2 separate regions of the Homo sapiens genome follow, and region 2 is linked to region 1. Evidence: fine-mapped expression QTL. A gene starts in region 1. The other region holds a variant in brackets. All regions are shown on one strand. Distances are between the middles of the regions. Region 1 holds the start of SYPL1 (synaptophysin like 1). Region 2 has its middle 46 kb from the start of SYPL1.

The links. PIP is the estimated chance that this variant, and not a neighbour inherited with it, causes the effect.
Region 2: its variant is fine-mapped to the expression of SYPL1 in esophagus mucosa (GTEx, PIP above 0.99). The same link has a PIP of 0.9 or more in nasal epithelium.

What each region holds. Positions count from the first base shown.
Region 1 is chr7:106,102,805-106,119,119 of GRCh38, reverse strand. SYPL1 (synaptophysin like 1) reads left to right here and starts at 6,808. Exons shown (of 5, transcript NM_182715.4): 1 at 6,808-6,980. The coding sequence starts at 6,912. RefSeq lists silencers at 6,401-6,460, 6,541-7,030, 7,041-7,290 and an enhancer at 6,746-7,578.
Region 2 is chr7:106,058,040-106,074,354 of GRCh38, reverse strand. No RefSeq gene overlaps it. Among named protein-coding and RNA genes, the nearest start is that of SYPL1, 46 kb to the left of the region's middle. RefSeq lists enhancers at 1,978-2,272, 11,457-11,506, 11,817-11,986, 12,017-12,146, 15,591-15,690 and 2 more and a silencer at 15,131-15,250. The variant G/C (reference allele first, on the strand shown) is at 8,999.

The DNA of each region.
Region 1 (16,315 bases):
CTCATGTTCTCACTCATAGGTGGGAATTGAACAATGAGAACACTTGGACACAGGAAGGGGAACATCACACACCGGGGCCTGTCATGAGGTAGGGGGAGTGGGGAGGGATAGCATTAGGAGATACACCTAATGTAAATGACGAGTTAATGGGTGCAGCACACCATCATGGCACATGTATACATATGTAACAAACCTGCACATTGTGCACATGTACCCTAGAACTTAAAGTATAATAATAAAAAAAAAAAAGAGAGAAGGGGTTTCACCGTTTTGACCAGGCTGGTTTCAAACTCCTGACCTCAGGTGATCTGCCCACTTTGGCCTCCCAAAGTGCTGGGACTCCCAAAGTGAGTCACCGTGACTGGCCCTTAAACGTTATTCTTAAAGCTGACTCTTTTTATTCAATTCTACTGCAAGTTCTCAGTAACTATCCAACTGCCTCTCTTGAGCAGCTTCACCCTGTTGATATTAATGCTTTTATAAGGGAGATAGTACACAATTGCTATTTGCAGGCCGACCTCCAAAACTACAGCCCAGGGGAAATTTCTTTATCTTTGTCCTAGCAATGTTATTTACCCCCATGCCACAACATTGATATGCTGAGGTACTAATTGTTTGGTTTTTTTCATACTCTTTACAGCCTTTCTTCTTTCCTGTCTCCCTAAGTTTACTGTATATTGTCATTTTCCTTAAATATTCTTCTGTGTTTATTCTGTCTGTCATGGCTAACTATTGCTTCCATGGCTACACCAAGCACCCACTATAACCAGTAATATCTCAGGTTGCTAACACAACACACAGCACTAACCGCTGGATATGCTCACGTGGGCAGTCACTCGAGAATGACATTACACTCCTAGCAGTTCCACTATCTATAGAAGAAATTGCTAACACACAAGCCAAATACTCTGGATTCAACTACGCCAGGTACACGCACACCAAAAATACAGGTTTATGAGGTAAACCTAGGCCAATCGATCCCTCATGCCAATCACCCACGGTGACCGAGCAAATAGGGAGGGCACCAGAGATGGCTTATAATGCTAGAAATTCCAAGGAGTCTGGCCCTTTCCCAGGGGCTTTAACACACAAGTCCATTGCAATTACACTGTCAGCTATGATCAAACAAACCAGAATGGAAGCCATGCAATGACTCTTAACAAGTTCACTGTGTACCTCCACAGTTTTTCTCTATGGTGAGGAAACAACAAAGTTCATGCCAGAAAGATTTATAACAATTCCTTTATGCCTATAAATAGTTCAGCAGCCAGGATGGAACATATAGAAATAGCAGTCAAAACTGGACGACTTCTCAACTTCACTAATACATCTACATCTTTTCCTCAATTTTCTCTTATCCCATTAATATTCAAAAATCATATCTGTCAGGCCCCACATTCACATAACACTACAAGTCAAACTTTTACCCCCTTATGCGTGGATAACTACTTTTTGGGTCACTGCCCATCCACATTTAATCCCAGGGGACCATGGGATCCCTCTATTTATGCAAACCATACGGGAATCTAAACTAATCACACCTATGCCTGGTTGTGAGGTTCCTCTTCAGGAGTTTCATTAAAAGGAACTGGGTTCTTCTTTTTATACAGATCTAACATATTTCTAGCCTTGTCTATTAAGTGAAGAGGCACTTACACTACAGTTGCAGCAATATCTGGAGTGCACATATATAACTCCTCAGACTTCGTAACCTCTAGCCAAGCTCCAAATTTAAAATCCTTCTTATGTTGGTCCCTCCAAAGGACATCAGAAGCAGTACTTAGTCTCCCATCATTTAGCATCCTCGCCAATAATAATCCTGTCATAGAGAAAAATGACCTAGGACATTCTGTAGCCAGTGCAATCTTTTGGTTTGCAGATATACCCATGCTTAAGTGCAGTATTCATAATCTCACCATCCTAGTCCAGCAATCTTGGGAAGCTACAATCACGGCCATTGAAGGCCAATGGCAGGCCCTGAACTCGCTGGCAGGGTATGTTTTGCAGAACCAACTCACTTAGGAGGTGCTTCCTGCTGAAGCAGGAGGCACCTGCATGCTGTTAAATAAAACTTGTTGCTTTTACATCAGTAACTCAGGTCAGGTAGAAGAAAGTTTAGAAAAGATAACAGACAACATAAAAATATTAAAGGGCCTTCAAAACAGAGTTCCTCAAGATTCCTTTTCAGCACAACTATTTCAAAGCTTCTCCAGTTAAATTTGGCCATGGGTTGCTCAACTTCTTCTGCCTATAATAAAGCTCATATTAGTTTGTTTATTTGCATACTGTATTGTTAATTCTACATCTGATTTTGTGTTTTCTAGGATACAACAATTTCAAACCAAAACAGTACTACAGCAAAGGTATCAGCTACATAACTTTCCTTTGAATGCAGCAGAACAAAATTTTAGGCTACAAATGCTGTTCTCCCATAGTCTCATAGCAACCCTGACCAATTTAAGTCCCAACTCAGGGATTTAGGTGTACATAACCTCCTGACCGACTAACAATCCTAGGTAGGGCCAACTATACACCCCTGGTCAGCAAGAAGCAGTTGGAAGATGAGACCTTTAACCACATGCCAAAGATTAGTCATTGTTGCTGTCAGGGTGTGAAGAAAGGTAGAGTCCTAATTCAGGAGAAGGAGTCAGGCTGGCAGGACCAGGGGAAAGCAAAACGAGAAAGCAGATAGATAAGCTATAAGTCTGCCTTTCTTCATGGTCCAGGACACATAGCCCTCATGTGTAAATCACTCACAATCTTCCTGTGCCGAGCTACCACCTGACTCTTGGCTGACAGAAAAATGCAAGTTAGCTCACTGCAACCTCGGCATTACCAATACTGCACAAAGTCTTCTTCAAGCGCAGAGCACAAGCACCATCCTATAAAATCCCTAGCAAGCTTTTGACTCTTTGCAGTCAGCTCCTCTTTCGCTGACCTGCCTGTTGCACCCTTGCAATACATTTTCCTACGTTCTCAAATAAATCTGCCTTTCTTTACCTACGACTGTCTTGGTAAATTCTTCTTACTGCCTGTACCACTGGCCCCAGATAGTTTCTGATCACCTGTGACACTCATTACATTAAATGTGGTTTCCTGGATTGGATCCTGGGGGAGTAAAAAAGACATTAGTGGACAACTGATGAAGTTTGAAAAATTCTTTAGTTTAGTCAGTAGTAACACATCAATACTAATTTTTTTTGTTTTGACAAATGTATGATGGTTATAGAAGATGTTAACATTAGGGGAAACTGGGTGAAGTGTATACAGAACTCTTTGTACTTTGCAATTCATAAATCAAAATATGTTTTAAAATGAAAAGTTTAAGAGGCCTCAGATTACTTTGAGATTAATTTACTGAGCCTATTAAATCCATCTATTGTACAATTTAAATAAATTTGGTTATCTTAAAATTTTTCTAAAATGATTATTGAATTCATTAGCGAAAACAAAACACCTATTTGTGTTTATAAGCAAAAGTCAGGTTTTGAATTTGGTATTAAACAATATCTTTTCAGAAAAGGAGATAAATATTGGTTGGGAATGAGTTACAAAGTCTCATCTTGCCAATAAGATGACCAAAACTTTGTATTCCCATTGAGAAAAACAAAAAATATTATAGTTAGCCAATGAGATGTCTAATATAGTTAATATATGGTTGACTAAATATAGTTTCCTTTCTGGCCTTCTGAGCATTCCTAAATCCCAAGTGTCACAGTCTGGCACATGTGTTCAAAGCCACAGAGAGAAAGTAAAACAATGACAAATTATGTAGGTAACTTAGCCATAATTATACCACCACAGATAAAGCTCAATAATACTACCTCAGATAGACAGAACCATTTTATATTACAGGGATTCTTTTCCAAATAGCCCTGGTAGAGTAGACCTGGAACATGTTGTTCCCAGAGCATCTGGCTCTTTCCTCAGATTTGAGGAACAAATCAGAAAATGACCAGTGTTGTAGTCAATGTGATACAGTCATCTGAACATTCTTCCCTGATTTTGAACAGTTGTGCCTTCAATGAGATGCTATTGTTTAAACACTTTTGTTTGAGGAGGATTTAAAAAAAAATCACAATTATCTTGTTGCCCAATCAGATCTCACTGGCTCTGCCAGTCACGGCCAGTTCCTTCTCAGGAAGGTAGGCCCCTGAGCTCAGCTGACTGGCAGAAGCAGTGCTAGGCTGTGACTGAAGGTGAGCAGTGGCGGCTCACTTCTGTTTCCTTCTGCTCAAGAGAGATTCTGCGAATGAGTTCTGATAAGTGACCAGATGTGGTTCTGCTCACCCTCGGTGGTCTCCATCTTTAAAATCGAGTGCCACAGGGCCAAGGAAGGAACCTTCTTAAAGTTCAAGGAGTTACTCTAGCACTGAAGGTTTCCTGAGGAAATGTAACCACCATGCCTTCCACTGGTGGGCTTGAACAAGAAGCAGGAGAGAAAGTGAGGAGAGGCAGACAGAAGCAACAGAAAGTTTAGCGCGGAAGTTGAGAAAGGGCCTGGCCAATTCCAATTTCTAAGGCCTTCAATAAACAAAAAGAAGAAGAGATGCCAATATTGGTTTACTAAGTCATGGTATGTTTTAGATCTTTAATTAATAAAGCTGCATGTGAACATATCTCTAATCTGTCAAGGCATATCTCATTTTGAAATAACATTAAGAGCTGGGCGCGGTGGCTCACGCCTGTAATCCCAGCACTTTGGGAGGCCGAGGTGGCGGATCATGAGGTCAGGAGTTCAAGACCAACCTGGCCAACATGGTGAAACCCCGTCTCTAATAAAGATACAAAAAAATTAGCCGGACGTGGTGGTACGTGCCTGTAATCCCAGCTACTCGGGAGGCTGAGGCAGGAGAATCGCTTGAACCCGGGGGTGCAGAGGTTGCAGTGAGCTGAGATCACGCCATTGCACTCCAGCCTGGGTGACGGGGCAAGACTCTGTCTCAAAAAAAAAAAATAATAATAATAACATTAAGAGTCTAATTTGAATATTCGTGAATATGAAGCTCAAGCTAAATAGTCTTACTATTCACTACTCCGTCCCCAGGTGCCTACCCAGAAGACCGCAACAGAATGAGAGTAAAAGCTTAGAAAAACGGGCTAAAGAGAACAAAAAGAGAAGTACTGAGAGGAAGATACAGAAACAAAGTAGAAAAAAAAGGAGAGAGAGGAAGCTGGAAGACCTGGAGCACCGCTCATCGTGGTCTCAGACGCACCAGGTAGCAGTGTATGGTCACCTTCCACTCACCTAGCCCTAAGGGGTATCTATGATGCTTTGTTGCTTAGTGGGAGAAATCTGCAACCATCCATTAGGAACCCGCTGCAACCCCCCCACCTCCCGGTTCAAGCGATTCTCCTGCCTCAGCCTCCTGAGTAGCTGGGATGACAGGCGCGTGCTACCACGTCAGGCTAATTTTTTTGGTATCTTTATAAGAGACGGGGTTTCACCATGTTAGCCAGGTTGGTCTTGAACTCCTGACCTCACGATCCGCCGGCCTCGGCCTCCCAAAGTGCTGGGATTACAGGCGTGAGCCACCGCGCCCAGTTCTTAATGTTATTTCAAAATGAGATATGCCATTAGGTGCTCATTGAGCACTGACTGTGCTGGGGACTGAGGAACGGGAGCCAAGATAAACATAAAGATTGTCTCTGTCTGCATAGAAAATGAAATGTATTTTTTGCACTCTCTGGACAGCAAACAAGGAGATAGGTCTCGAAAGAGAAAGGGTTCGCTTACTACAAGGACGTTCAATAACAGTTGTCAACCCTGACGGAATAACCTCAGTGGCAAGTAGCCTGCAAATCATATTCGTGCTTGAAATTCAGGTAAGTCCTTGGAAGCTGGTTTTTCATATACACGAATATGACCACATTCCAGCTGTCCAGGAACTTTCCAGGTACTGAAGAAGCCAGGAAGGAGATCACACTACCTTGGGGCTCCCGTAACTGCGTGCCAAGAGGAAAGTATCACCTAAGCCGAATCTTAAAGGGGTCAGCTTCTTGAAGAAAGATACCAACGATGCCTTAAAAAGAGGACTGTCGACCGACAGCGTAGAAGAGGTGAAAGTGTAGGTCACCGAGGGCCTGTCCGGCCACGCCTTTCCTTTTAGGTATAAACTTACTTCATTTTTCAACCATGGCTGCGATGGTAACTTTGAAAATAAACCTAATTTCCATACGAATATTTGGTGATTCACACTTTCGAGGCACCCCACAGCACGGTAGCCAGAAGTCTGTTGTTTTGCAATTTTAATCAAAGGCCCCTAACACATGCCTTGAAACACAACTTCATCTGTGCCAATACATTATAAATTCATAAAAAAGTTGAGATCTGTTAAGGGAAGGAGAGGTCAGCTTCGGTGTAGTGAGCTCAGCTGTGGTGAGCTCGGGGTCAAGTGAGGGTGTCTCTGAGGCCAGCGCCCCCAAGCTGCGCAGGAGCGGGCGTGGGCGCCCCCGGGTCAGGGCTCTTCGCAGTCGCGCGGGTCCGGAAGCGCGGCGCGGGCCCAACGAGCGCACGCGTACACGCGTGCGCAGGGGAAGACCGAGTGCCAGGGGCTGAACCGCAGGGAAGGGGGCGCGGCGCACGCAGTATGGCGCCCAACATCTACTTGGTTCGCCAGCGGATCAGTCGACTCGGCCAGGTGCGGCCTGAGGAGAAGCCTCCCGGTCTCCGCCCCGGCCCGCCCCTCGCCTCCCCAGCCGCCCCACTCCGTTTCCGCCCCAGAGTCTCAGCCAGCAGCTCAACCGCCGCCGCTCCGCCCCGCCCCGCCCCACGGCCGCCCGGGCCCGCCTCCGAGCCCGGCCAGCGCGCCAGCCCCGCCTGCCCTTCCTCGCCACCGGGCTGCTCTGGTCTCGTCGGTCCCCTCCTCCGCCCCGTCGTCCTGACTCTCTCTCCCTCCTTTCCTCAGAGGATGTCCGGCTTCCAGATCAACCTCAACCCGCTCAAGGAGCCACTCGGCTTCATCAAGGTCCTCGAGTGGGTGAGTGCAGCCCGCGCCGGCCAGGCCCGCCTGCCGCTCGGCGCGGCGCCCTAGGCGGGGAGACGGGGACCTGCGAGCCGGGACGCAGCCCTGCCGCGCGGGCTTTGAGGCCGCCGCCCCGGGACTGGGAGTGGACGGCAGGGAGGGCAGGGAGGCCGCGGCCTGGGCCGCGCGGGGCGGAGACGCCGCGGCGGGCGTCGAATCACGAGCTCCTCGGCCGCCTGGCTCCCAGGGGAGCCACCCTCCCACACCGGAGCTCCCCTCTGGGTGTCCCCGTGGAGTGGGAGTTCAAATTTCCCCTTGGCTCCACTGCCTCCCGCAGAGGAAGGGAAAACTTCCTGCTGCGGTCTAACCGAAACCCGGCGGCCGGCGTCGCGCTCTGCGGAGAGGCTCAGCGGTTACGTCCCTGCCGGTGCCCACTCGAGGTCTAGCTCCCTGGGAAGCCGATTTTGTCTTGTAGACGTGATTTGGCGAGCATTCCGTTCTTAATTTGTTTTTAAGATGGGCTCCGAGTTAAAAATAGTAAAAAAATAAACTGTGGGCCAGGGAAACTAAAGAAAGTCCTTTTAACAAAACGCATCGAGTCAGATCGGTTCACTTAATAACACGTTAGGAATGGACATCGAGTTTGTTTGGGGTATTTCCAAACAACATCCTGTTTAGAAAGTCAGCTTTTAGTCCTTTCCTGAGAACACTCACAATCATTAACATCAAAGAACGCTTATTAATTCGACCTTGGCAATGATCAGTTACTTGGAGGAGTTGGTGAATATACCAGGCACTGCGGGCTTCCTTCAAACTTCGCGGCCCACTACATATTTCTGCAGGCAAGTTGTGTTTATAGACAGCAGCATTTACATCCATAGCTTTTTCGCCCTTTTCCTTAGTGATAGAGTGGTGAAGAAGAATAAGAACTTTCAATTTCCTGTTCTAAATAACCTACCGAGGATGTTTTTAAAAGCAGCGTAGAAACTCAGTTTCTCTGATGGGTACCTAATGTGATTTCCTACTTGGACCATTGTAACCGCGCAAGGGGTTAGGCAATTTCACCATTCACTGAACATTTTGTGTGTTTTCTGAAAACTGAAGTAGTGCTGACTTCACACAAATGACTACTTGAAAGACGCATAAATAAATATACTTGATTTTTTTAAACCTAAGTCCAGATTTAAGTATAAAGAAAACCATGATTAAAGCATTTAAAAATTGCAAGAGGAAAATCTCATTAACGAGGCTAATCAAATATGAACGTTAAGAAAGTCTTATATCTAGATTTAGTCTCATTGAGGATTATAATTAAATGTATAACTAATAATTTAGATTTCCACTTAAATGAAGAGGCAGTTGTTTATATCTGTGCTTATATTTTTTGTCAAGTTTTTAAACAACTGTAGACTTAGCTTTTTCCTTAATATTTCAAGCACTAGTGATAAGTTCATTCGTGTTTTGATGTATTTTGAAAAATATCCCTTTTTAAGCATCTTACAGAAATACTTTCAGTTTGAACAGCTTGTTATTACACAGGAGAGCCTTTTATGAAAAGACTACACATTGTTAATGGTGTGGTAAATATTTGACTATTTTATACCAGATCTGTACTAAACACTAGCATACCACATGAATAAAACATGGTCTTTTTCTCATGATCTATTAAGGATGAAGGACATACAAAATACAAAAATGCCATGTAATAAACTGTGATAAAGGTGTATGCAAAGAATAGTAGAAGAAATGAGGGAGAGAGCATTTGCTTGGAGGAACTAGGGAGGACTTCATAGCTGAGAGAACACTTGAAGGATGGGTACTGGTTCACTTGGGGAGTGGCTTTCTAGGCAGAAGGAATCTTATGTTCAGTGGAAGGAAATGTTGAAGCAGCATAACCCTGTATGAGAACTTAAAAGTAATTGGGGGTTAGTTGGAATATATGCTAGGTTGGAGGGTACGGTTTGAGATTGTTCTGAAAAGATTTCAGAGGTCGGCTGCTTCTGGGGTTAATCTTTGGGAATCTGGGCCCTTTCCTTAGGAAAATGCATATGTGCAGGGTATGGAATATTGGAGTGTTTATTCCATTCAAGCCCAGAATCCCTGCCATAGGGGATGGGAACTTAAAGGCTTTAAACAAGTCAATGATACGACTAATTTTAGGCACTCATAATTCCTCAATCAATCGATTTCTCCCTCCAATTCTGACCTTTCCAATCCATCCCTCTAACTGCCGACAAAATGAAAATTTCTAAAAGGATGAATTGGAAAGGCTAGAATTGGAGGAAGGGAAATCTGTTGATTGAGGAATTATGAGGGCCTAAAATTAGTTTCAGTAGGACTGAAGGGGTTTACAAAAGGGGGTTACAAATTAGAATATATATGGAAGGTAACAAAGAGGGAGGACCCTAAGATGACTGCTGTCTTTCTGACTTCGTTGCCATTAGCATATTCAAGGTAATGTCATTAAGAGGAGGAGGAGCAGATTTTATGGGAAGTCAAAGGTTTCAGATGTATTGAGTTTGTGGTCTCTTTAGATCTTTTGGAGGTATCCTATAGGATACAGCTATATATATGGATCTAGAATTTAAAATATGAGTTTGGGCTGCAGATATAGCAGATATCTGCCTGCAAAGGAGAGAAGGAATGGTTAGGAAAATTGAGGGAAATAATGCCTTGGCATCACTATTAGAATTTCAAGAAAAGAGTACCCCAAAACGTAAGGTGCAATAGAATGGTAAAGTAAAATAAGGACTAGTTGATAAAATAAGGACTAGTTAGCAAGAGCAGTTTCAGTAAAATCAAAAAGCCAGATTTTAGTAGGCTGAATGAATGTGTGGTAAGAAAGTGAAGACAGCATAAACCGCTGTTTGACTGTGAAGATGGGAGAAATTTGGTGGTTACAAAAAAAAGCCACTAGTTCAGCTTACAACTCAGTTGCTTAAATGCATTCTCTGGAGACAACCATTGTATTTGGTATGCAACAAAAGTCTTTATTTGCATTTCCCATTTTATCCTACTGACAAGAGAACTCAAGGGTCAAGGTTTAATAAAATTTTTACTGCTTCATCAGACATTCTTAAGTAAAACTGGTGGGGGTTTTTTGTTCTTTTTTGTTTTTGGTTTTTTGTTTTTAACTGCAAGTATGTGGCAGTGAAATAGAGTTTGGTATTCTTCCTGATTCTTATTAAACCCGGCAGTTTTCCCCACCAGTTTATCTGCTTCATCAGTACAAATGTCAGCACAGTGTAAAAGGCAAATAATGTCTTAGTATCGTTAGGAAAATGTTTTACCTTCATGAACTCCTGAAAGAGCCTTGGGAGCTTTCAGGGGTCCACAGACCACGCATTGAGAATTGATGAGGTAAACACCACTGGGGACCAGAAACAGAACAGAAAATACGGCAGGGAGAAAGACTATTCCCAAATTTGGTAATTATTAATAAATCTGAAGAAAGCTCAACCAACTATCTGGATTTACGACTTAAATAGAGCTGAGTACTTAAAAGTGTAGAAATAAAGAGATATATATAGCCTCTCAAGACCTGGACCAATCTACTTGCAGGCTTAAGGTCTGGATTTGTGATAACGTGTATGTTCACTTATGTTGGTGGTTTGGGGGTCCCATCATAAGGTGTGTTTGTGGACCAGGGGACTCAGAAGGCCAAGCAGAAATGACCATGACCATAAAGCCGCTAGACAGGGATAGAAGCAGGAGGGGACAATCAAGTTGAGCCTATATCAAATATCCTAAAACACATGAAGAAAACTAATTTTTACTTAAAAATTCAAATTATGTCAGTGGCAACAAATGCTGTCAGTTTTCCACAGAGTGACAGGCTTACTTCAAGACAGCCAGCCAGATCAACAATCAGGATATTGATTCACTCCAGAAGACATGAAAATAGTAGAGCAATTAGAAAATGATTTCTATTTTTAAAAATATAAATTATATTTTAAATTTTTAAAAATATAGTCTCTGTCTTGTCCAGGCTGGAGTGCAGTAGTGTGGTCTCGGCTCAATGCAACCTCGCCTTCCAGGTTCCAGAGATTCTTCTGCCTTAGTCTCCCGAGTAGCTGGGATTACAGGCGCTCGCCACTACATCCAGCTAAGTTTTGTATTTTTAGTAGAGACGGGGTTTCACCATGCTGGCCAGCCTGGACTCTAACTCCTGACCTCAAGTGATCCACCCGCCTCGGCCTCCCCAAGTGCTGGGATTATAGGCATGAGCCACCGCGCCTGGCTGATAAATGATTTTTAAATAAATATATTTAGGTTCCTCAGAGATTTAAGGTGACATAAATGTGTTTTCAACATACAATGATTAGGAGTTAGCAAAAAACTTCTAGCTGTTTATTTCAGTAGGAACTCTAGAGTTTACTTCTCATAATCCAATTTTTTTTTTTTTTTTTTTTGGAGACGGAGTCTTGCTCTGTCACCCAGGCTGGAGTGCAGTGGCATGATCTCAGCTCACTGCAACCTCCATCTCCCAGGTTCAAGTGATTCTCCTGCCTCACCCTCCCAAGTAGCTGGGACTACAGGCGTGTGCCACCTTGCCCGGCTAATTTTTGTATTTTTAGTAGAGACGGGGTTTCACCTGGTTTCACCAGGCTGGTCTCAAACTCCTGACCTCAGGTAGTCCGTCCGCCCTGGCCTCCCAAAGTGCTGGGATTACAGGCGTGAGCCACTGCAGCCGGCCATAATCCAAATTTTTAAGGATTATGGAATTATCTTGGCAGGCTATTTAGAATTTTCTACTATTGTACATTAGAAGCAAAGGGAGATAGAGTGAAACTGAAGCACTTTGTAACTGACTTTATTTCCCAGTGGGAATAAACTGAAATACCACCATCAAAAACAATACTTTTTTGAAATGAATAACTTTAGTAAACATTTTGGACTTTGACTCATAAAAATCATACCTTGGCTCTAGGCATCTAATCTTTTGATTGTAAAGGCAAACGTGCTATAATATTTCATTTTAAGTGCTGAATGATCATTTGACTTAAAACCAGCATACATTTCTTTTGCATGTAAACACTCATACATAATATACTTTTATATCTATTTTTGAAGATTTCAGTTATCACTTTGATAAACTAAACCTTGGACAGAAAGAAATTTAAATAGATGATTTCAGATTAATGATGAAATTAAATAGCAATGAAGATCCTGCAACTAGAAACGTGTAAACAACACTCATAAACCAGGTGAATACTAGTATTCTCCAGTAGAATCCTCAGAATTAGCATGGTCTAGCAATAGAAGTTAAGGCTCCAAACTCTTTTTAAATTTTATTTATTTATTTTTTGAGACAGGGTCTCACTCTTGTCACCCAGGCTGGAGTGCAGTGGCACGATCACAACTAATTGCAGCCTTGACTTCCCCAGGCTCAAGCTTTTCTCTCACTTCAGTCTACTGGGTAGCTGGGACTGCAGGTACACACCACCACCCCCAGCTACTTCTATAATTTTTTATAGAGACAGAGTCCCACCATGTCACCCAGGCCAGTCTCGAACCCCTGGGCTCAAACGATCACCTGCCTTGGCCTCCCAAAATGCTGAGATGAACCACTGCACCCAGCCTCCAGAGTCTTTTTTTTTTTTGAGACAGAGTCTTACTCTGTCGCCCAGGCTGGAGTGCAGTGGCATGATCTCGGCTCACTGCAACTTCCGCCTCCCAGGTTCAAGCAATTCTCCTGCCTCAGCCTCCCAAGTAGCTGGGATTACAGGTGCCCACCACCACACCCAGCTAATTTTTTTTGATATTTTTAGTAGAGATGGGGTTTCACCATGTTGGCCAGGCTGGTTTCGAACACCTGACCTCAGGTGATCCACCCGGCTCAGCCTCCCAAAGTGCTGGGATTACAGGCATGAGCCACTGTGCCCAGCCTCCAGAGTCTTTTTTGCACTCCTATTAGTGCAAAATTTTATGGACAGAGCCACAATATGCATCTACAACTTAAGATGCATGTTTTACTATGTCAGTTAGTATCTTAAGGTATATTATATACTCAGTGCAAATTTTGTTTATATTTTTAAATCCTTGCTTCAGATACTATTCTGATAATTTTTTATTGTTGTGCCACCGTCTTGTGATCTGATTAAGTAGTCTGTTTTTACCTTGTAATATGGCTGTTGATTGTAATCATAGAGTAGTATGAATGCTTCCATTTTCTCTTTTATACATGAGTGTGTGTGTTACCAATCTATTTCTTTGAAGACATTTTAAAGCCATGGGTCAATTTTGTGAAGGTTGATTTGGTTAAAACTAGACAAATTATTCCATAAATCCAGGCCCACTCACATTGTAATGCATGAACACTAAAAGTGAAAGAATAGATGAGGTTATCACTGTCTGTCCTTCCATGTATGAGATTCCCCTTACCTTCAGGATACCCAGCATGCTGTACTGACATGTGACCTTCTGATGTGCATGCCCAGCATGGGTTTCAGTGGTATATTAATTGCAATAAAGCTTCAATTCCTTATTTAAGTCTGAAAGTAGATCTAAATAGAAGTTTACATATTTTCTTCTGGTACTCCAGTCTACTTTGGAGACTAGTGCTCTGGAAAACCAGGCTGTACTATTCACCCTGAGGTTACAATTCTCTGAATAAGATCTGCCATGGTGGTCATCTAGTATGGGTCTGGTGGGCAGAGAAGTAAGTGGGACTGTTTCTCTGGATACTTGGGGCTGTATGTGAACATGTAACTTTTCTGACTAAACAGAAGCTTGCTGTCACCCCGCCCCTGGATTCTTACTAGTCACTGTGCAGATAGAATTCCATGTCAGTAGTTTCAGTCATTCTTCATGGGGTAGGAGTATATGGGAAAATAAGTTTCAAAAGTGGCCAGAAAATATAAATCAGAACACCAGTACTCCTTCATTTTAGACTAGGGTTGGAAACTGAAATGGTCATAGGAACCACCCTCTAAAGTAAATGAGTGAAGCAAGATGTTTGGAAGAAAAAGAATAGTATGTCATTGATTACTTACTGGCAACTAACACACATCCTGAGGGCTGTTAAGACAATGGAGAAGCGGATAACCTGGAAAGCACATACTCTGCCATAAGTGACATCTGTCACTCAGTTCTCTCTGATTGTTGCTTTATGAGAATGTAGGTCTGATGTTGCCATTCTTCAGCTTTCCCATACACACTCAGGAAAAGCAGGAAATCCAAATTTTTATGTGTAATACCCTGATATTAAAACAATGACAACAAATTCACATTTTTTTGTAATACTGGAAAGGCCACACAAATATATTTGCAGGCCGGGTTTTACCAACAGGCTGCCAGTATATAACTTCCAGTCTAGATCAAAATAGCAGTAGAATATAGGGAGAAGTGAGATAGTTGGATATTTTGCCCTCATAATTTTGTACTTTGTTTAATATAAAATATGTGCTTTTGTCCCTTCTTTCTATAAGATAAAGACCAGAATTGCTGTCATGATATTTATCTATCCTTATAACAAAAAGCTTTAAAATAATAATTATGTAAGATTCAAAATATGGTTTTATTTATAAGTTATTGGAAATTATTTTTTCCTTAATTAAGTAGTTATTTAGTGAGCATCTGCTATGTGCCAGGTTTTCTGCTAGTCACTGAAAATCCTAAACAAAACCAGGTGCAAAGACATGACAGTCTGGCAAAGGAGCAGTAGAAGTGATAGTCTTGAAAGCAACAAGCTGTAGTGCAGTATGCCATTTATTTGCTACTTGTTATATTAGGAAATTCATTTTTCCATTTAATTTTTTTATTTTATTTTATTTTTAAGACAGGGTCTCACTGTGTTGCCCAAGCTGGTATTGAACTTCTGGGCTCAAACAATCCTCCTGCCACGGCCTCCCAAAGTGTTGGAATTACAGGCATAAGCCACTGCACCCGGCCCCATTTTATTTTTTAGAAAGCAAGTTACACAAGAAAAATGCCTATAGTAGAGTTCATATATAATAGAGTTAATGTCTATGATAGCTCAAGAGAAGAATCATGAGTTCTACCACAGGGAATTGGGTAGGGCCTTAAAAGATGAGCTAATCAGAGACAGGGCATTCCCAGAAGAAGAAGCATATACATTTAAGACATAAATACATGGTATGTTTCAGGAACAGTAAGCAGTATAATGTGACAGAATCATACAGTACCTGGCAGTGAATAGACTGCAGATAAATCTATCTAGAAAGATAAAGTTGAGGATCGATCAGCCATGCCTTTTATGCCAAATTAAGAAGTTGGAGCATTTTTTGTTTAATTTAGGTTGAAAAACAATTGAGGAAATTCCTTTAAATGGGAAGGACATGATCAGATTTTTATTTCAGATCAGTTTGGCATCATTCTAAACTAGCTCTGTCCAGTACAAAAAAATACAATGGGAAGCAAAAATGCAAACCACATAGTAATTTTCAGTGTTCTATTAACCACACTAAAATAAGAGGAAACAGGTGAAATTAATTTTAACAATATATTTTACTTAACCCAATCTATCCAGATTATTGTTTGAACAAGTCGTCAATATAAAAATTAATGAAGTATTTCACATCTTTTTCATAGTAAATCTTCAAAATCTAGTGTGTATTTTGCAGTTGGAGTATATATCAATTTAGATTAGTGACATGTAAAGTGTTCAAGACTCACAAGTAGCATTACTGGGTACTGCAGCTATAGTGCCCACATTATAGAAGATGAGTATCAATTGGAATGAAATTGGAAATGTGAGAAAGAGTCTGCTGGGTTAGTCCCAATGAAAAATGGTGAGGGCCTGAACAAAAATAGTGGCAGGTGTAATGTAGGCAGGTAAACAGAGCTTTTTAAAAAATGGTTTTATAGTCTAGGTAGTCATATGCAACATGGTTTTTATTTTGTTTTTGTTTTAACTCAGCATTGGATTTCTATGATTCATCTATGTTGATGTAGGCAGTTGTAATTCTTATATCTTTTTTGCCGTATAACTTCCCAGTGTAAGAATATACTATGGTATTTTATCCATTTCCCTGTTGCTTTTCCCCTCCCCATTTTTCATGAACATTCTTATATGTCTCTTAGTACGTGTGAGCAAGGGTTTCTCTTAGATCTATATACTAGTAAATCCTTTGTGACATTATGTTTATTATAAATATGTTCATCTAATTGGTAGCTTGTTTTACATTCAACAGCTGACTTGATTAAGATTTTTTTTCTGTAGTTGAATTTAACAATCTTTTATGGTTCTTTTTTACAAAAAAAAATCTTAAATTCTCCCTTTTCATGTGGTCACAGGTTTTCTTTTATATTGTCTTCACATTTTTTAAAGACTTTTTACTTTTGTGTGCAGCTCATCTGGACCATTTACTGAACAGCTCTTCCTTGTA
Region 2 (16,315 bases), 45 kb after region 1:
GTGGTGTCTAGGGGTAGGAGCCTGCAACTCCTGAAGCCCCAGTGGATGAGCTACAGTCCTCTTTTAGCTCTGCCATCCGCAGATGGCTTAAATGTTAAACAGCTCAGTGCCGTCTTGGTACCTGGATTCTTGTCCAGTGTCCAGGGAGAATCAGATCACACACAGACTTGAAGGATGGTGAATGTGGGGGTTTTATTGAGTGGTGGAGGTGGCTGTCAGCAGGGAGCCGGAAAGCGGATGGAGTGGGAAAATGACCTTTCCCTGGAGTTTGGCTGTCCAATGGCCTATCTCTCCTCCCTGACTGCCCCAGCCAAACTCCTCTTGATGTTCAGATGCTCCTTCTTTACTCTCCTTCTCTGCCACGCCGTTCTGCAGCTCTTCTGCTCTTCTGTTTGTCTGCTCATCTGCTTGTAGAGCCTGGGGCTTAGGGTTTATATGACTACAGGATAGGGGGCGTTCCAGACCAAAAGGCAACATTTGGGCATGAAAACAGGAATGCTTGTTCTCATTCCAGGCTGCAGGTTTCCAGGCTTTAGGGTGGGGCCTTTGCCAGGGAACCACCCTCTTCTACCCAGTATTTCCCTGTCTCCTGTCCATATCAACTGGACATTCACACAGGTCCAGTTGAAGGGCTGGTGGTCTCAGCTGGTTTGAAGTGGACAAGGACTGACCCCCACTTCCTGAAAAACAACTGTTACCATGGTGAGCAATGCCTTAGAGTTGTTAACTATAAGGAAGCTACTGGCAGATATATATTATTTAGCTATATGGATTTTAAAATCAGCTAGAAGCAAGCGGCTAAAAGCAAGCAAGGCAAGATAAGCTTGGTGGGCCTTATAAGTTTAGTCCTCAGTTTCCATCAACAGCCCATGGTCAAGCAAGAGGCAGCAGGTGGGGTAACAGGAAACCAGTGGGATGCAGACAGTGCGCCCATGCCCATTTTATAGTGCTTGGAGCATGAGTTTACTATTTATAATGACCACGGAGTTTAGAGCTATTTTATTATTGCATTCCTGACAGAAATTATCAAATCATATCTGATGTGCTTGATGTCAAGTCCCTAACCCAGAATGTAAGTCCAAATTTATAACTTCATTATTTGTTTGTTTGTTTGTTTGTTTGTTTTGAGAGGAAGTTTCAGTCTTGTTGCCTAGGCTGGAGTGCAATGGCAAGATCTTAGCTCACTGCAACCTCTGCCTCCTGGATTCAAGCAATTCTCCTGCCTCCGCCTCCTAAGTAGCTGGGATTACAGGCGCAAGCCACCACGCCTGGCTAATTTTTGTATTTTCAGTAGAGACAGGGTTTCACCATGTTAGCCAGGCTGGTCTCAAACTCCTAACATCAGGTGATCCACCCACCTCAGCTTCCCAAAGTGCTGGGATTACAGGCGTGAGCCAATGCACCCGGCTATAACCTCATTATTATGATAAAAAACATACAAACCAGTTTGCAGAAACCTGTTTTATGATGCTCCAATTTATGTGGCAATTTCTAGAAAAAAATTTATGGTGATAAGTGAGAATTGTCAGTCACTGAAACATTAATTACATAGTCAGTGAAGAGCAGGTAAAATATACTTCTGGGCTTCACTTTACATTAGAGATGTTTTTCTGAAACGGTGCCTATGAAACAAATCCTTGTCCCCATTACTTCATATTTATCATTTCAAAGGCACTTTATCTTTATTTCTGGTTGATCACCCTTTGAGGGTGGCATTCCAAAATGTCAGCTCAAAATTTCCCTGCCCTTCGGTTTCTGTGACAAGTAAGTTAACGATCTGTAAATAAATCCTGAAATGTCCTCAGGAATCTGCCACTTGAAGGAATTCTATTAGGATTCTTCCAAAATGCAAACACTTGGCGTGTCATGGGCCTGCCTGAAGTTGTACGCTGGGCTTTCTGGAGGGCAGCAGACCCCTAAGAATAGAGCCCGGGCTTTCCTTTAGTTCCTCTCATTGTTTTTCAGGGACAAAAATCGTTATCTTATATTTTTTTTTTCCAGAGGAGTAGGAGGAAGATCTAAAATAGTTAGGTCTGGCAGCTTAATCTGGGTTGGCTGTCTCTGCCGGCAATCTGTAAAATGTGTTTTTCAAGGATAAGAAGTTTGGGCCCTGGGCCAGAGCTCATGTCTGTCATCAGCGGGAAAATAAATGATCTCTGTAACCTGCTGCTATGCTCTGTTTACCTTTGTGCTTAAACATGAACACCTTGCCTTCCATAGGCCCAGAGCTGCTCAAAGTGGATCCTTTGCTCTTGTCAAACAGAACCTTCATAAATCTGCCATTTGGGTGAGCATGGTGGGGCCAGCTTTTTGTGAGGTGAAACTCCAAACCAGCTTCCATTCTCGGGATTGGTATGTAGTTTTTTCATGTTGCCTAAGAGGCTCAGGAAGGGAACTTGAGGTATTTGTTTTTTCATGCCTGCAAAGGCCATTTCCTAAGAGGTGAGAAGCATATATGCATGCCTGCAAGTACCTGTGAACGTGGGCCACTGAGAGTCTCTGGGGCAAGAGCCCTTCAGGGGAATCTGGTATCTATTCATTATGCAAAACTTCATTCTAGCTAGAACAGGGCCTGGGCTACACTTAAAGCTTAAAGGGATGTCTGTTAAACCATGTTTCCTGTTTCCTGTAGAACTTACCACACTAGTACTGAAAGTGTCATAGCTCAGAGTGGAAGGTTAACGCGTAAGAAAGGGACAGTATTGGCAGAAGGCAAGTGGTGTGACCACTTCCTTCTCCACCCTCTTCTCCCATCCCTTGCCTCCCTGGAAAAGCTGGTTTCCTCAGGAGTCACTCCTTCAGCAGCCGCACAAGGCACACGCCTCGGGGAAGCCGGGCACAGGCTGGGGTTGCCTCCCTCCTGCCCCTGCCCTGCCTCCTGCCCCAGCAGACAGTGAATAAGCCACCTGGTTGGCCCAGCTTCCCGCAGTCCCACTTCTCAAGCTAGGGTACATGTATCTAGGAGGACAGGACTGTGTCGCTGGGAGGTAGAGTGAGACGGATGACAGGAGCCACAGAATCAAAACAGCACAATCGACTCATCAGTTCTTTAACTTGTAAGTTCAAGTCAAACATTACTTTTTATTTTGCTTTACTTACTTGTTTTTTGAGACAGGGTCTTCTCTGTCGCCCAGGCTGGAGTGCAGTGGCACAGTCATGGTTCACTACAGCCTCCAACTCCTGGGCTCCAGTGATCCTCCTGCTTTAGCCTCCCAAGTAGCTGGGACCACAAGCATGCAACACCATAGCTAACTTTTTTTTTTTTTTAAGAGACAGGGTCTCACTATGTTGCCCAGGCTGGTCTCAAACTCCTGGGCCCAAGCAATCTTCCCACCTTGGCCGCCCAAAGTGCTGAAACTATAGGTTTGAGCCACTGTGCCTGGCCAAACATTACTTTTTATAATAAGACGAATATTTTTTTCTGAAATAAGGCCCAATGAAGCCCACCTTGTTTGTGTTTAAGAAGCCATGACCAAAAAGAGCACTACCCATTCCTGCCCAGGCTTGTTGCAGTCACCCATTTAATCGCTCATTCAACTTGAGTGTACTTATGGGGCTCTGGCCAACTGCCAGATGAGAAAGACGCAAGCCCCTCTCAGGAACTCACAGTGTAGCGAGGAGGTAATAGGTTAATGCGTGGTTTCCAGGGAGAAGTTGGAGCTCAGATAGGGGTCAGCAGGAGTGGTTAGGGAAGCCCAGAGAAAAGACCCCAACCCAGCTAGGCACAGCTAAAGAGAGACAGTAGGCACTGCACTGGGGGAAGGAGAGAACTCGTCTACCAAGCAGGTACACTGCCCTGGTCAGGGCTTGCCTGCCCTGGCCTCTGTTTCTTCACCTGCCAGATAGGCAGTTAGAGCAGTGACTCTAAGCCCCTGCCAGACTGATATGTCTGTGGCTCCCTTCACCCACATCTCTGCAGAGCTCAGTAGCTCTCAAAAGGTAGAGCCCAGCCTCAGGGCAGCGCGGTGGTGTATGCTGGGGCTGGGATGTGTCAGGGTCATCCTAACTCCAGGATGCAAAGGTGGCCATTGCTGGCCCCAGGGTTTCATAAATTGCTCCGCACGTGGAGAGTCTGGTGTTGGCAGCATTGGTTCTGATATCCTGCCAACTGAGCATGACGCACAGGCCAGGTGGAATTCAGGGCATGTGCTCACGGAGGAACCACCGTGGATTCTGGCTGTGGCAAAGGTGCTGCAGATTTGCGCCTCAGTTGATTTGTTCCAGGATGGCGAGCACCATGGCCAGCCACACCCCAGGGAACATTCCCCCTGCTCCCTCAGCACCCAGCAGCCTCGCAGCCCAGCAGCCCAGCCCCGCAGCCCTCTCTGGCCATTGATTGCTTAGGCAGTACCTGAAAGAAATCTCACCTCATCTGGTCAGCTAGCCTGGGCTTATCTGTAGGGAATTTCACATCCGCTTCCCCCACCAAAAGACACACATCATTTTGTGTAAATGTGAAACTTCAGGGACTCTTGCCTCATAAATGCATGTGTTTTTTTCTTGTATGCAGTGCTATTTTCAAGACCAATATTTAAGTCTTTCTGATGAATTCCTGCCCATCTGTCAAGATTTAGCTTGAATGGCCTCCTCCTACCCATTCTATGGGCTCCCATAGTCCTTTGTGCACTAGAGCTTGAGAGCACAGCCTTGCAATTTATCTGCTGACACGTCCATCTCACCAGCTGGTCCTGAGCAGATTCTCAAGGGCGGGAACCTTACAGTGGCGGGCTTCCATCACCTAATACTAAGGCCTCTGCTGACACCAAAACTCTGTAAATGTTGCAGTCAATTCTAAGTGTCTTTTTCTCAACTGTTCTCATCTTACTTTTTATGGTTTCAATGCCTTCCACAATGGTTTACTCTCTTATTTAGACTTCATCTATCTCACTGAATGGTGGTGTTGGGTCACCTGGGGTCAGAAAACCAGTGCAAAAATGCTGCCACTCTGGCTGTTACTATTACTGGAAGTGAAGAAACTGTCCTTCTTCTCTGACCCAGGAGCCTCATGTCTTCTACCAACATCCGTGAAATTTTGGCATGTGTGATTATTACCTGCACATGAGATAAGATCTCAGTTCTTGATGGTATGGAATGCTGCAGGGAGAGGAAGTGTGCGTGCACAGGCCCAGAGGCCTAGGGGAGCCCAGCCTGCTCTCGGAACTGCCAGGAGAGCAGATGACTGTGGCACACCCTTGCTGTGTGGGGTGGCAAGCAGCCTCTTCCTTCAGGCTTCTGCCCAAATGTGATCTCATTAGAATGGCCTTCCTTAACCATCCCAGCTGACACAGAATCCCACATCACTCCCTGTCTCCTATCTTGCTTTTCTGTCTTTCACATGTATACCACATCATCTCATATATTTGTTTGTTTGTTGTCTGTACTTCCCTACAAAATGGCAAATCCCATCGGCGAAGGAACTTTGTTTCATTCACTGCTGTAATTAATTCTACCACTTAGGACAGTGCCCCGCATAGAGAGATGAGGCTGTCAGGACAGGCAAGCCTGGTTTGCATCATGGGTTACAGCCTGTAAGCCATGCCAGGAGCCTGGGTGAATCCTGGGAGGTTTAGAAATTCTTTTAAGTATTCTATGATTTGCATTTTAGGGCCATGATCCCTTCAGCAGCTGGCAAGTTCATTGAAGGGAGGGCAAGACCACAGGAGTCTGGGAGAGCAGGTGGGAGGTGGGCGCATCATCTAGAAGGAGGATGTTAGTGTGGATTTAAGACACTGGGCTGGAGAGGAGTGGAGGAGTGTTAAAGCTATCAAGTAAGGAGAATTGACAGGGCTTGGTGATTGATTGGATGTAGAATGCAGGGGAGTAGTGGTCACAGATGGTGATTTGGGTGACTGGCAAATGGTTTAGGGGGGTTCAGAGGAAATGGGGGGTATACTTAGAGATAGGATGTTCAACTGGGGCAAAAGTTTGACTTACTATTATCTGCTGAACCGTGAGAAGAGCTGTTATCCTGTGATCATTTCTCGACATCAATCCGATGGCAAGTAGTCTGTTGCTGGTGCCAGGGTCAGAATGTGGGAGTGTCTTAGTCCTGCGGTTCACAGACCCCAAAGGAGAAGCAGGTTACAGGGATTTCTGGTAGTTGTTTCTGATGCCAGCTCCAGGTTAGACAGTCCTCATTCAACCTGACCCTTTAACACTTCTCCAATTTCTGTTTTTCAATATTTTTACGTTTTTAATTTATGTCCCATAAAATGCACAATTTTGAGCGCACATCACTGTGAATGTTTATCTACGCATACACCCATGTAACTACCCAAACCAAGATTCGCAACATTTCCACAGCCCCAGAAAGCTATCTGTGCCCCTTCCAAGTCCAAAGTAAGCATGCTTACCCAAAGGTAACTGCTATCTGACTTCCGTCATCTAGGATTAACATTGCTGATTCTTGAACTCCATTATAAATAGAATTACACAATATGTACTTTTTTATCTGTGTCTTGTTTCTTTCAACATCATGACTGTGAGGTTCACATTTCAAAAATTTGCTGTTTTTATAACTGTGTAATATTCCATCGTATAAATATGCCATAATTTGTTTACCATTCTCCTGTTGATGGGCATCTGGGTTGTTTGGAATAAAGCTGCAATAAACTTTCTTGTCCAAGTCCTTTTTGCAGCTGCTGTCTTTTGGCAATTCCAGGAAGGCCTGTGTTTTGTGTATGTGGATGCGTATTATTAAAGGAAAACCTTCTTGACAAGGCCTTGAACTCGCTGCTGGCCTCTGCCTGGGGTACCTTTGAGGATGAGCAGCTCCAAGGAGCAATGGACAGAAGCTCTAAATCACTAGTGACCAAGGGTAATGTCACATCCCCTCAATTATTTGTTTTTATTAGAGATCAGGAGAATTTGGGGGAAACCTAAAAGTGATTTTGAGCAGTTATTCTCATGCACTTATAAAGACTTTTACCTCTTGCAAAGGACCAGGGCTGGGGAAAGAGACAGAACCAGGATGTAGGTTGGGCCTCATGTACTTGGAGAATGGTATTGAACTCCCTACAGCATGTGGCCCCCAGTTAAGGGAATGGTTTTTCTATATCACAAATGGAAAATATTCTCATTTCTCTGTAATCATAGTCATAGTGTAAAGCATCCTTCGCTAGGGTTTGAATGAAAGAGGTAATCTCCTGATTTCTGCTAAAGAACTTCTCAAATCCTTCATTGCTGATGACTATGACATCCTCATAGGTGCCATTTTCCTCCTAACTTTTTTCCCAAATATTTCTGATCCACCCCAGCAATGCTACTAGTAAATATTCAGAGATTCCTAATCCTAGACTCCTCAGGCATCCTAGGTTTTAGAAGAGAAAGAGAGTTCTCTTTAGTTAAGAACTTGCTGTGGGCCAGGTACTATGTGAGGTAGTTTGCATCCATTTCATTATTTAATCTTTACAGCACAGTGAGATAGGTTTTATTATTCCCCTTTGATGGATGAGGAAACAGAAGTGCAGAGAGGTTCATTAATTTGCCCCAAATCACACAGCAGAGCCAGATTTGACCTGAGATATATTTGGCTTTCTTGCCTATAGCACATTGCTCCTTAAACTAAGTGTGTCTGGCCAGGTGCAGTGGCTCACACCTGTAATCTTAAAACTTTGGGAGGCCGAGGTAGGAGGATTGCTTGAGGCCAGAAGTTCAAGACTTGCCTAGGCAACATAGTGAGACTCTCATTTCTACAAAAACTAAAACTAAAAATAAAATAAGTGTCTCTGACCAGACCTCCTAGCCTGGCTCACACTGTCTCCATGGTACAAAACATTCATATGGTCGAAAAAAAGTATTGTCTCTCAAATGACTGTGAGATTCCACTATCCTTTTATAACTTCACGATATAGAAAATAGTCAAGCTCTTGAGGTTAAAGTAATGTAACTCAGAATCACATGTGGTCCACTGTGAAAAAGCTTAAGGTGACCCAGGGTGCAGCTGTGACTTCCAGAAACGTGGAGACCAAAGGGGAGCTACATAAGGTGTGGAAGGTGCCGAGAAGCACAGTCCCAGCTTGGGGCTGGGGCACTTCCCACCCACCCCGCGGGCTGTGATTAGCCCCCACACCCTGTCCTGGGCCCTGCACTGGCCGCTGCACACCACGCCCCTGCTCTTTGTTCCCCGGTAGCAGAGCCAGTATAATTTCATGCTTCCTAATTTCTGAGGATAGTGAATCAATTCCCCCCACCAGTTTGCCTAGAAGAAGAGCTTATTTAGACAAACGCCTCCAAGGAAACAGTTGTAGAGAGTCACTTAAGAAAACAAGAGGCTGCTAAAGGAATGCTCTGCGTGCAGTGTGGAACAATTCGCAGTCAGCATGGGCGCTCCTCGGCGGGGAGACGCTCCCGGGCAGAGTGAGCACACCTGCCGCACATCCTTCCCAAAAGGAACTCCGCTCATTCCGGACGCTGGACTGCAAATAAAAACAGCCAACGCTAGAGTCCTGGAGTCGGGGAGGGGCTGGGACAAAGGTGAATGAACTTTCCTCCTCTGGCTTCAGATCAGCCTTTAGATTTCTCAGAATGCCTGAGGTCATCTAAGTGGTCTCTAAGTTACTGTCACACCACCCCCATTTTAAGGGGGTTCAGGGCAGCGTGGCTGGTGGGACCCTCTCCTGGGACACTCCTCCAGGCGCCCCCCCCCATCCCCTGGAGGTATTGGACTGAAAACAAACTGCTCGCTTTAGGGGACAAAGGGCACTGGGGGGTTGAGGCTGCAGAGAGGGAACCCCGGGAGGAGAAATGGCCTCGGGAGAGTGGATTCCAGCTTCCATAGAAGGCTGGGAAGGAGCCACCAAGAAGCTTCACCTCCAGTCCAGCCAAACGGTGAGCCGCGGAGCACACTGCTGGCTCCTGGCAGCCCTGAGCAGTTTCTATTACAAAAAGAAAAGGAGGGGAAAGGCTATGAATGCTGGCCTGGTTCCCAGAACAGAGGCTGCAGGGAAAATGGAAACAACTGTTCGCCGGCCCAGTGGGCTTGGCAAGGGCAGGTCAG[G/C]GCAGAACCAGAGGGCAGGTCAGTGCAGAACCAGAGGAAAAGGTGGGAGCCCCCAGGCTCTAGTCCCTGGGACCAGAATCACCCATGCCCCACCCCTTCAAGTCTCAGCTCAGATGTGGTGGGAGTGTAAAGAGTGCTGGATTGAGAGTTTAAGTTTTGGCTGAGCTCCTAACCAGCTTCCTCACATGCCCAGGAATCATGGACTCATAGCTCCCAGAGCCCAGGAAGACTCCCTCACCCACTAGGATGACTCACACAGTCCTGCCAGTCCTGGCTGACAGTGGTCCCTCCCATCCTGAGCAGCCGCCAGGTCATCGCATGCTCATGGCTCCCTCCAGTTGCCCTGCTGGACAGAGCGTGATGGAAGAGTGGAGAGCCCCAGCCGCAGGGTTCCTCTGCTCTCATCCCACTTTAGGTCTGCTCCAACCCCGTGAGGTCGGGCCCCTGCCTCCTGTGCCTTTCATGTCCCCAGCAGTTCCAGGGACGGGATAGGGACTCAGGAAGTATTTATGGCCTGGTTAATAACGAGCCCTGTCACAGCCTATGATTTGGGGTCCAATAAATCTGGGTTCCGATTTGGAGCCCTGCTGCCTGCTGGCTGGGAGGCTGAAATAAAGGCCTTGACCTCTCTAAGGCTCGGCTTCCTCCGCACTAAAGTGGTGGGTGCTTCACAGAGCTGATGGGAGGATAAAGGAAGTAAGCATATGGCCAGCAGAGGAGTCAGTAATAGCGTTCACCTCTCCATGCACCTGGAATCCTTGCCCACTCCCTCTAGACACAGGCTCAGAAGCCAGTGGAGCCTTTCAGGGTGGGGACCTCACTGGTTTTAGGGTCACGTCTGTTGCTGTGGAGGCAAATGGCACATCTGCTGGGCTCCACACTAGCCTGAGGAGAGGCCTTATGCTGCAGCTGTTTCCCAGCCGGCCGTGGTGAGGCGTCAGCAGGGCCCTGTTTAAACACAGCGCTGCGGGAGCCCCCACCCTGCACCTCAGATCCTTAAGACACCTGCTCCCTGATGCTCTCCCCAGGTCTCACCTGGTGGCAGGAGTGGAAGAAGTGATGGGATGAGTCACCACAAAGACCCTTCATGGAACTCATTAACTTTACAGAATAATGATTCTGGGACAGAGTGGATGTTTTTTTTTTTCTTTTTTGCCCCCAATTACTAAAAGAGTGGAGGATTTTAAATATACATAGTGTGCTCTGGTGATTGGCAAATTTAACCCCTGCTTGACTTAATTCTCAACAAGTCTCACAGTGATGCATTCTGGTGAGATTTCCAAGTTTCAGTCACTGCAGGAATGATGGAGGTGCATGGGTGCATGTCACTAGGGCACTTTATGGTTTACAGGGCACACTCACATACATTATTTCCTGTGATCCTCACCACAAATCTAGGAGGCAGGCAGGAAAGGAGTTCTTAGCCCTATTTTACAGACAATGGCATTGAGTCCCAGAGAGGTTGGGCAATTGCCCAAAGTCACACAGCTTATTTTTCGAAGCACAGTAACTCATGACCCCAGAGTTCACTTCATGTCTTCTCACAACAAGAGGGAGGAACAAGCACCATTGTCTGGCCTCATATATTGAGTTTTGATTCCTGGGTTCAGTTTCCTGTCACTATGCGCAGGGAAGAGACATGGATATCTGGAGATCAACTCCCCCTACTCCATGCTGTAGACTCCACTTTGGGAAAAGAGTACACAAGCGATGCAGGGGGGTGGGGGGTGAAAGAAATCCACATGTTTCATCCCCAAATACACTTCTTTGACATAATTTGAGATGGTTGTTCAGAGGGCCTGCAAACAGAAGGAGCCCTGCAAAGCTGTCTTTCTGGGGGAGATTTGCATCTGCAGAGAATCTGCATTGATGCAGCCAGGTTTTCTCAGGTTTTCTCAGAGGTCGTCCTTTGTCCAATCTAGGAAAAATTAACTGAAAATGGGACACCTTTAAAGGTCTGAAAGTAACATTTCCCATCAGTTCTCTCGGGGCTGCTCCCTGTGAGGTTTCGTCTACGTAACAAGATCATCTTGGCTCACCAGGCCTCCTCATCTTCTCCTCCCATAACCTATTTTGCCCCGATCCAAGCCCCCATTCTTTCTGTAACCTCAGGATGGTATATATACTTATACTTCCTGCACTGGCCGCTGCACACCACGCCCCTGCTCTTTGTTCCCCAGTAGCAGAGCCAGCATAATTTCATGCTTCCTAATTTCTGAGGATAGTGAATCAATTCCCCCCACCAGTTTGCCTAGAAGAAGAGCTTATTTAGACAGGAGGGTGGAGGAGGGTGGAGGGTGGAGGGTGGAGGTAATCACTCTGTGGTTCTCCCCCATGTGCACATTAACAAATTTGTCTGCCTTTTCTTTTATTAATCTGCATTTTGTGAGATGATTTTTCCATGAACATACAGAGGGCAAAGAAGTTTTTCCCTTGGCCCCTACTGTGGCTTCTCTGGACTGTGAGACCACCTTTAGTCTTGCCCAGGCAAGTTCTGAGGCAGGAGAATAGGGTCTGGAGGCAGGGAACCTAAGGCTGATTCACACTGACTAATTAGAACTAAATCAAAAGGGAAACCCCAACTTTCCACACCTAAGTAACAAAAGGACCAGAGGCTACTCCCTTTGTAAACACCCCCACCTGTCCGATTTGGTTGATTTCTGCAACCAATCAGACTGATTGCAGGCCACTACTTCATTTGCATGAAGTGTACACCAAGTGGCCTATGGGAAACCTCTAGGGGGTATTTGGACCCCTGAAGATCCTGTAACCAGCACCCTTGAACCGCTGCTCAGGCCTGCTCCCACCCTGTGGAGTGTACTTTCATTTTCAATAAATCTCTGCTTTAGTTGCTTCATTCTTTCCTTTCTTTGCTGTGCATTTTGTCCAATTCTTCGTTCAGAACACCAAGAACCTGGACAACTTGCAGTCAAGACCCTCCACCAGTAACAGTTCTAGCTGTCTCGACACACACAGAGGCTCGCCGTAGGCCCTGCTCCATTGATGCCCTGGGCAGTGGAGCCACAGAAGGCACCTCTGACCCAGTGCTCTGTCTCAGGCTGGTGCAGGCCAGGGCCTGAGCCTGGGCAAGGCAACACTGCACCCCTGTGAATCATGCACCCAGCAGGGGCTGTAACAGGGCTGCAAAGCCACCACCAGGCAGCTGCTGGCAGGACTAGGTTAGATGGTGGCATGCAGGGCAGGCAGGGCCTTCTGCACGTAAGAGGGACAGTGGCACTTCAGTCCCACCAGAAAACCCCTTTCGTCACCCATATGTTCAGCAGCCACGCACTACCTCCCGCTGTGGTGTATGCAGTACAGAGGCTGCTGAGTGATTGTGGAGGCAGCCAGGACAGAAGCTGGGAGGCATATTGTACAGTGACAAAGAACAAAGACGTTGGAGTCCCACGGCTTCAGGTTCGAATCCAGACTCCACTTCTTAGCAGATGGATGATCATGGGAAGTCATTGAGTCTCCCTGTGTGCCAGTGTCCTCATCTGTATACTGGGATAGGACAGCACCTCCCACAGGGGTTCTGAAGTGATGTAAATGCAATGCTTGGCCTGTAGTGATTGCCCCATCCATGGTTGATACCATAAGGGGTTAGTGAAATGCACTGTTTTTTGCAGCTGTGGTGCCATGCAAATAAAAGTTATTCTCAGGACTGCATATCGCTTTCACCCTGTCATAGGTTTCACATTTTATTTTGCTTATTTCCTGTCTCCCATTCGGAATAGAATCTCCATGAGGGCAAGGATTTAAGACTATTTTGTTCACTGGTATGTCCTCAAGTGTCTACAAGACTCTTTGTGCCTAATGGAAGCTTGATTTGTTGAGTGAAGGAAAAACAGGAAAAAAAAAAAAAAGAGAGAAAGAAAGAGGAACTGAGAAAGAAAGAAATAAAATCTCCTTGATATACAGATGACAAGGACTATAGCGGGGAGCCATCACAGGCCAGAGACATGCCCTGCCCGCTGTTTTCATGAAGGCCATGAGAAACAACAGCGACCCTTGGAAGCTGGACTGGCTTAGGAGACATACAGGGTGGGACGCCAGGGAGGGAGAGGAGCCTCAAACCAGACTTAGGAGAGCAGAGCAGCAAGGAGAATAGCCATGACCCAGGGGCTCGCTCAGTCACACCTGACTTAAGGTTTCACCAGTTCCTAAGAGCGGCCAGTTGGGAAGTAGCACCCAAACCCCACTGCTTAGCACGTGTTATGTATTGCAGGGATCCCTCACCCCCAGGGCCTGTTAGGAACTGGGACACACAGCAGGAGGTGAGCAGTGGGTGAGTGCGCGTTGCTGCCTGAGCTCCACCTCCTGTCAGATCATGGCAGCATTAGATTCTCATAGGAGCACAAACCCTACTGCGAACGGTGCATGCGAGGGATCTAGGTTGTGCACTCCTTATGAGAATCTAATGCCTGATGATCTGAGGTGGAACAGTTTCATCCCAAAACCACCCCATCCTCCTTGTTCATGGAAAAATTGTCTTCCATGAAACTGGTCCCTGGTGCCAGAAAGGTTGGGGACCGCAGATTTATTGGACAACAAGTGATGCAAACGTTCATGGCATACTAAGCTGTAGCTAGTTCTCATTCCAAGTATGAGTTCAGGCATTTCAGGACATGCTTTCAGCTGCCTGTTGAGGCTCTTAAAGGCTAACCAGGAAAGGTTTCCAAACAAGGTAAGCTCCCAAGGAAGAGTGCCAGCAAGATCCTGCGTGAGCGGGCCACATGGGCAGCCCCTTAGGAAAGGTGCCTTGGCAGACCTGGCTGCAGGCTGCGTGGGCTGCTTGTTACACACAGCTTTTGCCTTGGACAATAGCCTGATAAGGCTGCACACTAGGGAGAGGGTAGCTTTGTGGCCAGCTGAGGGAGTCCCTTTCTACCTGAACTTGGTCTAGAACGTGCTAGTTGTCAGCCATGTTTACCGTACCATCAATAGCCTGTCCTGAGGTCCTCCTGGAACTCAGTGTTGGGCTTGTGAGGTGCAGCGAACTACTTTTCTGATTGAAAATATGCTCTCTAGGCCGGGTGCAGTGGCTCATGCCTGTAATCCTAGCACTTTGGGAGGCCGAGGTGGGTGGATCACCTGAGGTCAGGAGTCCAAGACCAGCCTGGCCAACATGGCAAAACCCCGTCTCTACTAAAAATACAAAAATTACCCAGGCGTGGTGGCGCATGCCTGTAATCCCAGCTACTTGGGAGGCTGAGGCAGAAGAATTGCTGGAACCTGGGAGGCGGAGGCTGCAGTGAGCCGAGATTGTGCCACTGCACTCCAGCCTGGGCAACAGAGCGAGACCCTGGCTTCAAAGGGGGAAGAAAAATGTTCCCTAAAGCCCACCTGGCCGGATAAGACCTGGGGAAACATCAAAGGAAAGGATGAAGATGGAGTGAGGAGGTGTTTCTAGAAACTGGAGGATCTGCCACACTCGCCATTGGTGAGGACAGGAAGGGAAGGGGCAGGGGCAGACTCAGGCTCTGAGTGGGAGGATATTGGGGGAAGGACAAAACAGAGGGCTCTGCAGAGCCTGACAGGCCAGGCTTCCCAGGGAGAGGACCAGGGCCACTGAGAACCATCCAAGGAGCATCTCCAGGCCCCGGAGAGAGACTGGAGGAAACAGACTGGAGGAAATGGATCTCACTGCCTGTTTTGCAATTTCCTGGACACTGACTAGGTTAGCACATCCCTATGTTGACTGGCCCTATGTGTTGCCTCTTCTGTCAAATGCCTATTCATATTTTTTTCCCATTTTTCTTCTGAACTATCTGTCTATTTCCCACTCCCTCCACCCCACCAGGCATTCAGGACTCGATATATTCTTGAAGCTAATCCTTTGTCACTTAAGTGCTACACATATCTTTTCCCAGCTTGTGGCTTATCTTCTGAGTTTCTTTAAAATACCTGTGATGAACCAAGGTTCTTAAATTTAACGTGGTTGAAATCATGAATCTTTCTTTTTTATGATTTGTGATTTTTTGGTGTGTTATTTTTAAGAAATTCTTCCTCACTCCAAGATCAAAGAGATATTCACTTCCATTTTCTGCTGGTCAGATATCCCACCCACAGGGATGCTGCTGTTGTTTGGGGACCTGTGCCCAAGGCAAGGATGGGCAGACCCCAAACCTGACATGCTGTCCCCAGATGCCAGGAGGACCACATGTCAGGGCCTGCACAACCTTAGGGTGCCTTTCCTGTAAACCAGCCCCCAGACGTCACTGGGTACAAGCTAGTGCTCCTAATCTACCCCCTACCCGTACTTCGGCCAACACAAAAGGTGCCAGTGAGCCTGAAGCCATAAGATCCATGTGGCAGATTTGAGGGCCCCAGATGCTGTATTCAACTGGGGGTACTCAAAATACTGTGATCAGCACAGATCTGTCTGCTCACCACATGCCAGGATCTGCCAGGGACCATCTCACAGCTAATGATAAATCCTCCTGTCAGGGCCACAAAGCAGGGCTTTGTGTCACTGTGTTAGCCCGCATCGTCCCAGGGCAGGGCTCCAGGCTGAGCTGGTCAGCCCAGGCCACTGCAGACAATGGAGCCACAGTGGGGCAGGGCTTGCAATGGAAGTCAGTATGGAGGATGGTGACAAGAAGCAAACACCCTGACAGCAGCCAGGCCCATGCACGCCTCCCCGAGGAGGGAGGACAGGGCGGGGCAGGCTCTGCAGAGTCAACGGGCAACTTGAATCTTGCAGCATCTGGCTAGCACCCAGGCAGGCTCCACAGATGCCCGCCTGGGCCTGATTTTCCTGTTCTCAGTCTCCCACGTCTGCCAGGAGGCCTTGATAAATATTCAATAGCTCTGGCCTCAGAGCCTGTGTCTGGAGGACATTCTTAGGCAGTGAACTGGAGACAAGCTGAGAGGAGGCCTTTAAAGGAGCCCCAAACCTCAGCCTCTCCTTTCTGCTCGGGGTTTGGTTTTAAAGAGTCCCAGGGGAGCCACCCACCTGCAGGCCTGACCCCCTGAGGTCGATACGCGGGTTCCCTGAGCCCAGCTCTCAGGGAAGAAAAAGGCAGAATTCAGGCTGCTAGAGCAGCCGGGATAAGAGAAGTGATGCTGGCAAATGTGGTATTTAATGGATATTTTAAAACACCAATAGCAAATACAGTCATTTCTGGGACTTTTTTTTAGAAGATGCTGAATTAAAAATTTGCATCTTCCCTCATTCTTGATCTCCTTCTGCAGTTCCACTTGAGCAACCCCACAGGCTCCAGTCTCACTTCTGCTCACACCCTCCACCTGCTGCCCACGCAGCTTCCTGTCCTGCCCCCACCGCGCCCCCTGCGCCGTCCCAGCTCACCTGTT